Linked DNA regions of Homo sapiens. The gene in region 1 interacts genetically with each later gene. Each region holds a gene or a part of one and is shown on either strand. Other genes may lie near its edges. The genes, in order: ING5 and CDC7.

What was found.
Region 2: changes in ING5 (region 1) and CDC7 are lethal when combined (synthetic lethality), as found in Homo sapiens cells (one large-scale study listed by BioGRID).

Annotation. Positions count from the first base shown.
Region 1 is NC_000002.12:241,705,039-241,708,858, reverse strand, and holds part of ING5 (inhibitor of growth protein 5), read right to left. Parts: intron 1-3,820. UniProt on the Homo sapiens protein: Component of the HBO1 complex, which specifically mediates acetylation of histone H3 at 'Lys-14' (H3K14ac) and, to a lower extent, acetylation of histone H4. Component of the MOZ/MORF complex which has a histone H3 acetyltransferase activity.
Region 2 is NC_000001.11:91,514,083-91,517,902, reverse strand, and holds part of CDC7 (cell division cycle 7-related protein kinase), read right to left. Parts: intron 3,085-3,820; coding exon 2,906-3,084; intron 2,162-2,905; coding exon of another isoform or gene 2,152-2,161; exon of another isoform or gene 2,110-2,151; coding exon 2,027-2,109; intron 1-2,026. UniProt on the Homo sapiens protein: Kinase involved in initiation of DNA replication. Phosphorylates critical substrates that regulate the G1/S phase transition and initiation of DNA replication, such as MCM proteins and CLASPIN.

The DNA.
Region 1 (3,820 bases):
GAGCAGTCAAGAAAGAACACACTACTCTTAAATACCCTAAACAAACCTTATGTCACCTAAAGAAATCCACACGGGAAACATTCATAAGAGCAGAAAACAGAAAACAACCCCAATGTCCAATCCTCAGTAAAATGGAGAAATAAGCTGTGGTCCCTTCAGACAACAGAGTGCTACTCAGCAACAAAAAGAGCAAACTACAGCCACACACAGCAACACGGATGATTCCCAGAGAAGGTGACACGGAGCAAAAAGAGCAAGAAACAAAAGAAAACATACTGGATGATTCCATTAATATGAAGAGCAGAAACAGACACAACTCTTAACCCTTCAGTTTAGAGGGGTAAGAAAACTAGGCCAGGCGTGGTGGCTCACGCCTGTAATCCCAGCACTTTTGGAGGCCGAGGCGGGCAGATCACGAGGTCAGGAGATCGAGACCATCCTGGCTAACTTGATGAAACCCCGTCTCTACTAAAAATACAAAAAATTAGCCGGGCGTGGTGGCGGGTGCCTATAGTCCCAGCTACTCGGGAGGCTGAGGCAGGAGAATGGCGTGAACCCAGGAGGCGGGGCTTGAAGAAAGCCAAGATAGCGCCACTGCAGTCCGGCCTGGGCGAAAGAGTGAGACTCCATCTCAAAAAAAAAAAACAAAAGAAAACTGTTGAAGGCCATGCACGGCGGCTCACGCCTGTGATCCCAGCACTTTGGGAGGCCAAGGCAGGAGGATCACGAGGTTAAGAGATGGAAACCATCCTGGCCAATGTGGTGAAACCCCGTCTCTTCTAAAAATACAACAATTAGCTGGGCATGGTGTTACGTGCCTATGGTCCCAGCTACTCAGGAGGCTGAGGCAGGAGAATCACTTGCACCCAGGAGGCAGAGGTTGCAGTGAGCCGAGACCGTGCCACTGCACTCCAGCCTGATGGTAAAGCGAGACTCCGTCTCAGAAAAAAAAAAGAAAACTACTGTTAAAGGTGGAAGGTGACTGTCACCAAACTCAGGATGGTCACCCCTTGGTTGGGGAGGGGTGTCATGACTAGGAGGGTCACAAAGGCCTTCAGGTGCCAAAGGGCTTGATTTCTCCATCTCGGTAGCAGACAACAGAGAGGTTCACCTGGTAATATTTGTTAAGCAATCTATAATTGTTGCACATTCATTTCCTGAATATATGTTACATTTCACAATAAAATAACTCTCTGTATTCCCTAGTCAAGATGCTGTACCTAAGGAAAAAAACACAGCTATCTCAGTCTTGCAAAACATGTGCCCAGGCCGGGTGTGGTACTCACGTCTGTAATCCCAGCACTTTGGGAGGCCAAGGCGGGTGGATGAACCTGAGGTCAGGAGTTCAAGACCAGCCTGACCAACATGGAGAAACCCCGTCTCTACTTAAAATACAAAAAATTAGCAGGGTGTGGTGGCGCATGCCTGTAATCCCAGCTACTCGGGAGGCTGAGGCAGGAGAATTGCTTGAACCCGGGAGGCGGAGGTTGCGGTGAGCTGAGATCGTGCCATTGCACTCCAGCCTGGACAACAAGAGCGAAACTCCATCTCAAAACAAAAAAAACAAACCTGTGCCCAGCATAATGAATAAAAAATCTCAGGCCAGGCACAGTGGCTCACACCTGTAATACCAGCACTTTGGGAGGCCAAGGCGGGCAGATCACCTGAGGTTGAGAGTTTGAGACCAACCTGATCAACATGGAGAAACCCCATCTCTATTAAAAATACAAAATTAGCTGGGCATGATGGTGCATGCCTGTAATCCCAGCTACTCGGGAGGCTGAGGCAGGAGAATCACTTGAACCTGGGAGGCAGAGGTTGTGTTGAGCCAAGATCGCGCCATCGCACGCCAGCCTGGGCAACAAGAGTGAAACTCCATCTCAAAAAAAAAAAAAAAAAAAATTGCCACACCAAAACACATTATCATGAAATTTAAAACTTCAGAGATAAAGGAAACATCTCAAAAGCTTCTGAATAGGAATAACAAAAAAAAAATAGATCACACATATAAAGGACCAAGAATCCAAACGGCACCAGATTTTCTGCAGCAACGTGGAAGCTAGGAGACAAGGCAGCAATGTCGCCAACTTCCTGAGTGAAAACAATTGTCAACCTAGGATTCTATACCCAACCAAACTATCAGCTGAGTATGAGGCTAGAACAAACACATTTTCAGACATGCAATGTTACAAGAAAATCTACCTTCCTTTTTTTCTTTTTTTTTTTTTTTTTTGAGATGGAGTTTCGCTCTTGTTGCCCAGGGTGGAGTGCAATGGTGCGATCTCCAGGTGCAACCTCCGCCTCCAGGTTCAAGTGATTCTCCTGCCTCAGCCTCCCAATTAGCTGGGATTATAGGCGTGCGCCACCACACCCGGCTAATTTTGTATTTTTAGTAGAGACGGGGTTTCTCCATGTCGATCAGGCTGGTCTCGAACTCCTGACCTCAGGTGATCTGCCCACCTCAGCCTCCCAAAGTGCTGGGATTACAGGCATGAGCCACCGTGCCTGGCCAAGAAAATCTACCTTCCTATGTGCCTTTTTTTCAGGAACCTACCAAAGGAAAGGCTCTATCAAAACAGGAGAGCAAGGGCAAAAAGAAGACATTTAAGATTCAGGGAAGAGGGTCCCACACTGAAGAGGGGTGAAAGGAGATCCCAGGAAAACCTCAGGGCAACAAGTGTGCAGTTGGCATGGAAACAATCAGGACTGTGGCCTCCAGGACAGAGGGCTCTGCGGAAAGAAAGCACACACAGAACTGTCAGGGTAGACAGCCTGACAGACCACAAGGAAAAGCCCAGCTGGGGAGACAAGGGTCGAATGCAGAAAACAAAGCCAACAAACAGGGCCATGAGTAACTCTAAGAAATACACAAAGTTATTCCAAAGAGGTCATATAAGCACAGCAGGTGGCATGGCTCAGTGTTAAAGTACCTACACAGCTGCCCAATGGAAGTCCCATCACTGGTCTCACCACAAATTCTAACAACCTACAGCCAGGAGATGGGGGAGCCAGGTGAGGGCATGTGAGGGTGTGGGGGCCACTGGAGAAGTACAGCTGCCTGTGCCATATACGTCTGAACAACGTCTAAAACTGACGAGAGATAAAATAAGAAACAGCAACAAAAACATGTTGTTTAGAAACAGGGAGTTTAAGGGCCGGGCGCGGTGGCTCATGCCTGTAATCCCAGCACTTTGGGAGGCCTAGGCAGGCGGATCATGAGGTCAGTAGATCAAGACCATCCTGGCTAACATGGTGAACATGGTGAAACCCTGTCTCTACTAAAAATACAAAAAATTAGCTGGGTGTGGTGGCATGTGACTGTAGTCCCAGCTACTCGGGAGGCTGAGGCAGGAGAATCACTTGAACCCGGGAGGTGGAGGTTGCAGTGAGCCAAGATCGTGCCACTGCACTCTAGCCTGGGCAACAGAGTGAGACTCTGTCTCAAAAAAAAAAAAAAAAAAAAAGAAAAAAACAGAGTTAGGGCCAGGCGAGGTGGCTCACGCTTGTAATCCCAGCACTTTGGGAGGCTGAGGCGGGCAGATCATGAGGTGAGGAGATCAAGACCATCCTGGCTAACACGGTGAAACCCCGTCTCTACTAAAAATACAAAAAAAAAATTAGCCAGGCGTGGTGGCGGGCACCTGTAGTCCCAGCTACTCAGGAGGCTGAGGCAAGAGAATGGTGTGAACCCAGGAGGCAGAGCTTGCAGTGAGCTGAGATCACGTCACTGCACTCCGGACTGGGCGACAAAGCAAGACTCCGTCTCAAAAAAAAAGAAACGGAGTTAAATATCAAACGGCCAAAAAGTACTACCAAACTT
Region 2 (3,820 bases), on another chromosome or scaffold:
GCTGATCTCGAACTCCTGACCTAGTGATCTGCCTGCCTTGGCCTCCCAAAGTGCTGGTATTATAGGCATGAGCCACTGTGCCCGGCCCTACTTGCCTTTCTTAGCTCCTTTGGTACCTCTGCCTGCTCCTTCAATGTTTTCTCCAAGCCTTAAGTGCTGACGGATATTCCTCAGAGTTTTAACTTCTCCCTCTGTATACTCTCCCTGATTGGTCCATCCACTTCATGGCTTCAACTGTCATTTATATAATGATGACATTCATCTGTATTTCTAGCCCAGCTCCTTCGCTGAGCATCAGACTTAACTTTGATTCTGCTGGAAATCTCTATTTGGATGTCCCACAAATACCTCAAACCAATTATACCCCAAACTAACCTTACCTTCCCCTATAAACCAGTTACTTCTCCTTTACTCTCCACCTTGGTTACTGGTACACATCCAAGTCTCCCAAGCTAGGAATCTGGTAAACATCCTGAATGCCTTTTTCCCTCACCATACCACACCCTAATTCTACATCCAATTATCCACCAAGCTCTGCCTTTCTAACCCTTCACTTTTCTTTTCATTCCTATTACCAATACCCTCATTCACATTTTCATCCTCTCACCCGGACAAATTCATGCCACCACTCTCCAAAAGCTAATCTGTTTGCACGCCTGCCAGAATGATCCATCTAGGATATACCATTGTCACTTTTTTCACTTAACTTTCCAATATCTACAGTATATAGTCCAAACTGTAACAACTGTGGTCTGACCTTGTCTACCTCATTCCAGGTTTATCTCTCACCATTCCTCAACTTGCATCTTAATATTCTAGCAAAATTGGACTTTTTTTTTTGAGATGAAGTCTTGCTGTCGCCCAGGTTGGAGGGCAATGGTGCGATCTTGGCTCACTGCAACTTCCGCCTCCTGCGTTCAAGTGATTCTCTTGCCTCAGCCTCCTGAGTAGCTGGGATTACAGGTGCGCACCACCACACCCAGCTGATTTTTGTATTTTTAGTAGAGATGGGGTTTCACCATGTTGGTCAGGCTGGTTTCAAACTCCTGATCTCAGGTGATCCGCCCATCTCAGCCTCCGAAAGTGCTGGGATTACAGGCATGAGCCACCGCGTCTGGCCAAAATGAAACTTTTTTAGTTTCCTGTATGCTGTTTCTTGAGTTCCTTGGCTCATGCCTCTATGCTAACTTCTCAGCCCAATTTACATTCTAAGAGGTCATTTCTTTCATGAATTGCCTTTCATAATCTCTTTGGGTTAGGATAGTTAGATACTCCTTAAATACCCTGAATAAGTTTTATTACCATACTCAACAGGTTATTTTATAATTATTTGATGGTGTCCTGACTAGAGTGTGAACAGATGGTCTCATTTATTTATTTGTTATCATTAGCAAGCAAGAACAGACATTCAATGAATGAATACATTTCTTCAAAGCCCATAATCCAAGTGAATAGCAGGATTCATCTATTCATTCAAGATGTTTCCTGGATTCCAGCTCCATGGTAAGTTTTTAGATTACGGAAGACATTTTTCTTTTTCAAAACCTTCTAACTGCTATTATATTGTTTATATAATAACAAAAGTAATTTTAATCAAACACAAATATATCTACATCACAGGAAACTTTTGAGGTATTAAGCAAGCAAATAAAATGCTTTAAGTCTTTGGCTGGCAAAAACTATTAAACATAATTTTTTCCCCCACAAAGGTGATGTCAGCAAAATTCCACAGATTACATTTTGCGTATTTATTTACAAGATGGTAAGATCATCTTGTAAATAAATACGCAAAATGTAATCTATGGAATAAACTGTTTAAACAAAAAAAGAGAGGCAACATTAGGATTAAAAACTTTCATAAAGAATAGCATTAGCTCAAAAATAGGAATGCCACACTGCAAGAACTGCTTACATAATTAAAAGCAGAAGAACTCAAATATTAGTTATAAATAGACAAAGATCATAAAATAAAATACGTCTGGAACAATCCATTTTAACTAGGTTCTGTATTTCCAGTACAACATACCTGTAGTTTGATTGGGGCACTTTGTCAAGACCTCTGGTGCTCTGAATCCTGGTGTACCTGCCCTAGGGGCAACCTGCTGACGCCTTATGATGAAATAAGATTTCTCTAGTTATGTTAAAGTTGAACTATGTAAGTCTAAAAAATAACATTCATCAATTTAGTTCACAGTAAATTTTGCCTTGATACCTATATAATAAGTGTTACTATAAAGTAAATGATAATCTAGTGTGATAAAAATCCTAGATTTTTCTTCTTCTGTTTTTTACCCCCTCTACTAGTTCCCCGGACTTACTCCAGAAAGGTTTAAAATAACCTCCAAGAATAAAAAGCAGTAGTGGATAATAAGAGCCATAATAGAAAAAATAGAACCCAATAGCAATTCACAGGTATAAAAATTCATTTGTTTGGAGTAATTGATCACAGATACACTTATATATTTGAGTTAATCAAGAAAGGCTTTATGAAAGCCAAGCCTTGAAGGAAAGGAAGAAATTTATGAGTCAAAGAGTTGGAGGTGGGAGTAAAAGAGGAGCTCTACTATTTGGTTCTGGTTACTCCACATAAGCGGGAATAAAAAGAGAAAACAGAAAAGACTACATCAGCAATCAAAATGTGTGATTCTAAGCTTCTAAAAGCCACCCCGTCCCACTTATTTGCATATAAGAGCAAATGTGTTTTCCAGAGTATATCCATATTAAATAAATAATATATGAAAACTGTTATCATTTGCTCTTCAACATACTACTGCTCTGCATCAAGGCCCATTGCAGTTCACTGATCTGAACTGATCCCTTGCACTCACAAAATTATCCACCCAAGTCAATGCAATTTCTAATGGCAGCATGCTGGTGATTTTATAACACCATCAAAACACATTACCTTGAAAGGCAAATACTACAAACTTTATCTGTTGCATAGCAGTCACAGGTCAGGCTAGCTGGGCAAGAACTGGCAGTTTTCCTCATCACAGCACTATTCATAACTTTTGTAGAAATAGCCTTCTTTTTTGTTGCTAACTTTCTAGACAGTACATCCACAGTCTTTGACTGCTTCATGAGCTGTAAAAGAAAAGTCTCATTTTTCTATTTTCATGATATTAAACATGATGTCCTAAAATGCTAGTATGGCAAAAAGCAATAGCGGAAGCATAACTTTAAAAACTGCTGAATGGCTATTGGACTGTAAATAAACTGTTGTCTATTAAAATGTTTAAGGTCTTCTTGGGTTTTTCTGTAAAGTCACCTTATATTAAAATTTACTAATTAGTCCTAGCTTGGCCAATATTTGAGTTATACTTTATTAGAACTTTTCCTGATATATTACAGAAGTATAAAACAGTTATGTTCTAGTGTCTAACTCCATTTCAGAACTGTAAACTGCACAAGTACGTTGGCTAAAATCACAGTTTTAATTTGTTGCTCATGCTGTCTAGCTGTCACAAGATATCATAAGTCAATCTGAAATCATCTACATTGATGATGATTTTGTTAACTTTACAAACATCTTTACACTATCAACTATGTGTCAGAATAGTTAGCTAACTGTATGGAGCTCACACTCTAGCAATGACAGAAAGCCCTTAATGTTCTAAATGTTCCTCTAGAGAAAGACAGTAATAGCTAACCAAAAATGAGAAAAAATTCCACCAGAAAAGTTCAGAAAAAAACTGGAGAAAACAAGTTTTGACTAAATGCTTAAAGCAGTAATACCTTCTGCCAAAGCCAAACTCTAGTTTAAAAAAATTTCTGATAATAAATGTTAATCTAGTTATTACCTAAATTCTCTTCAGTGTAT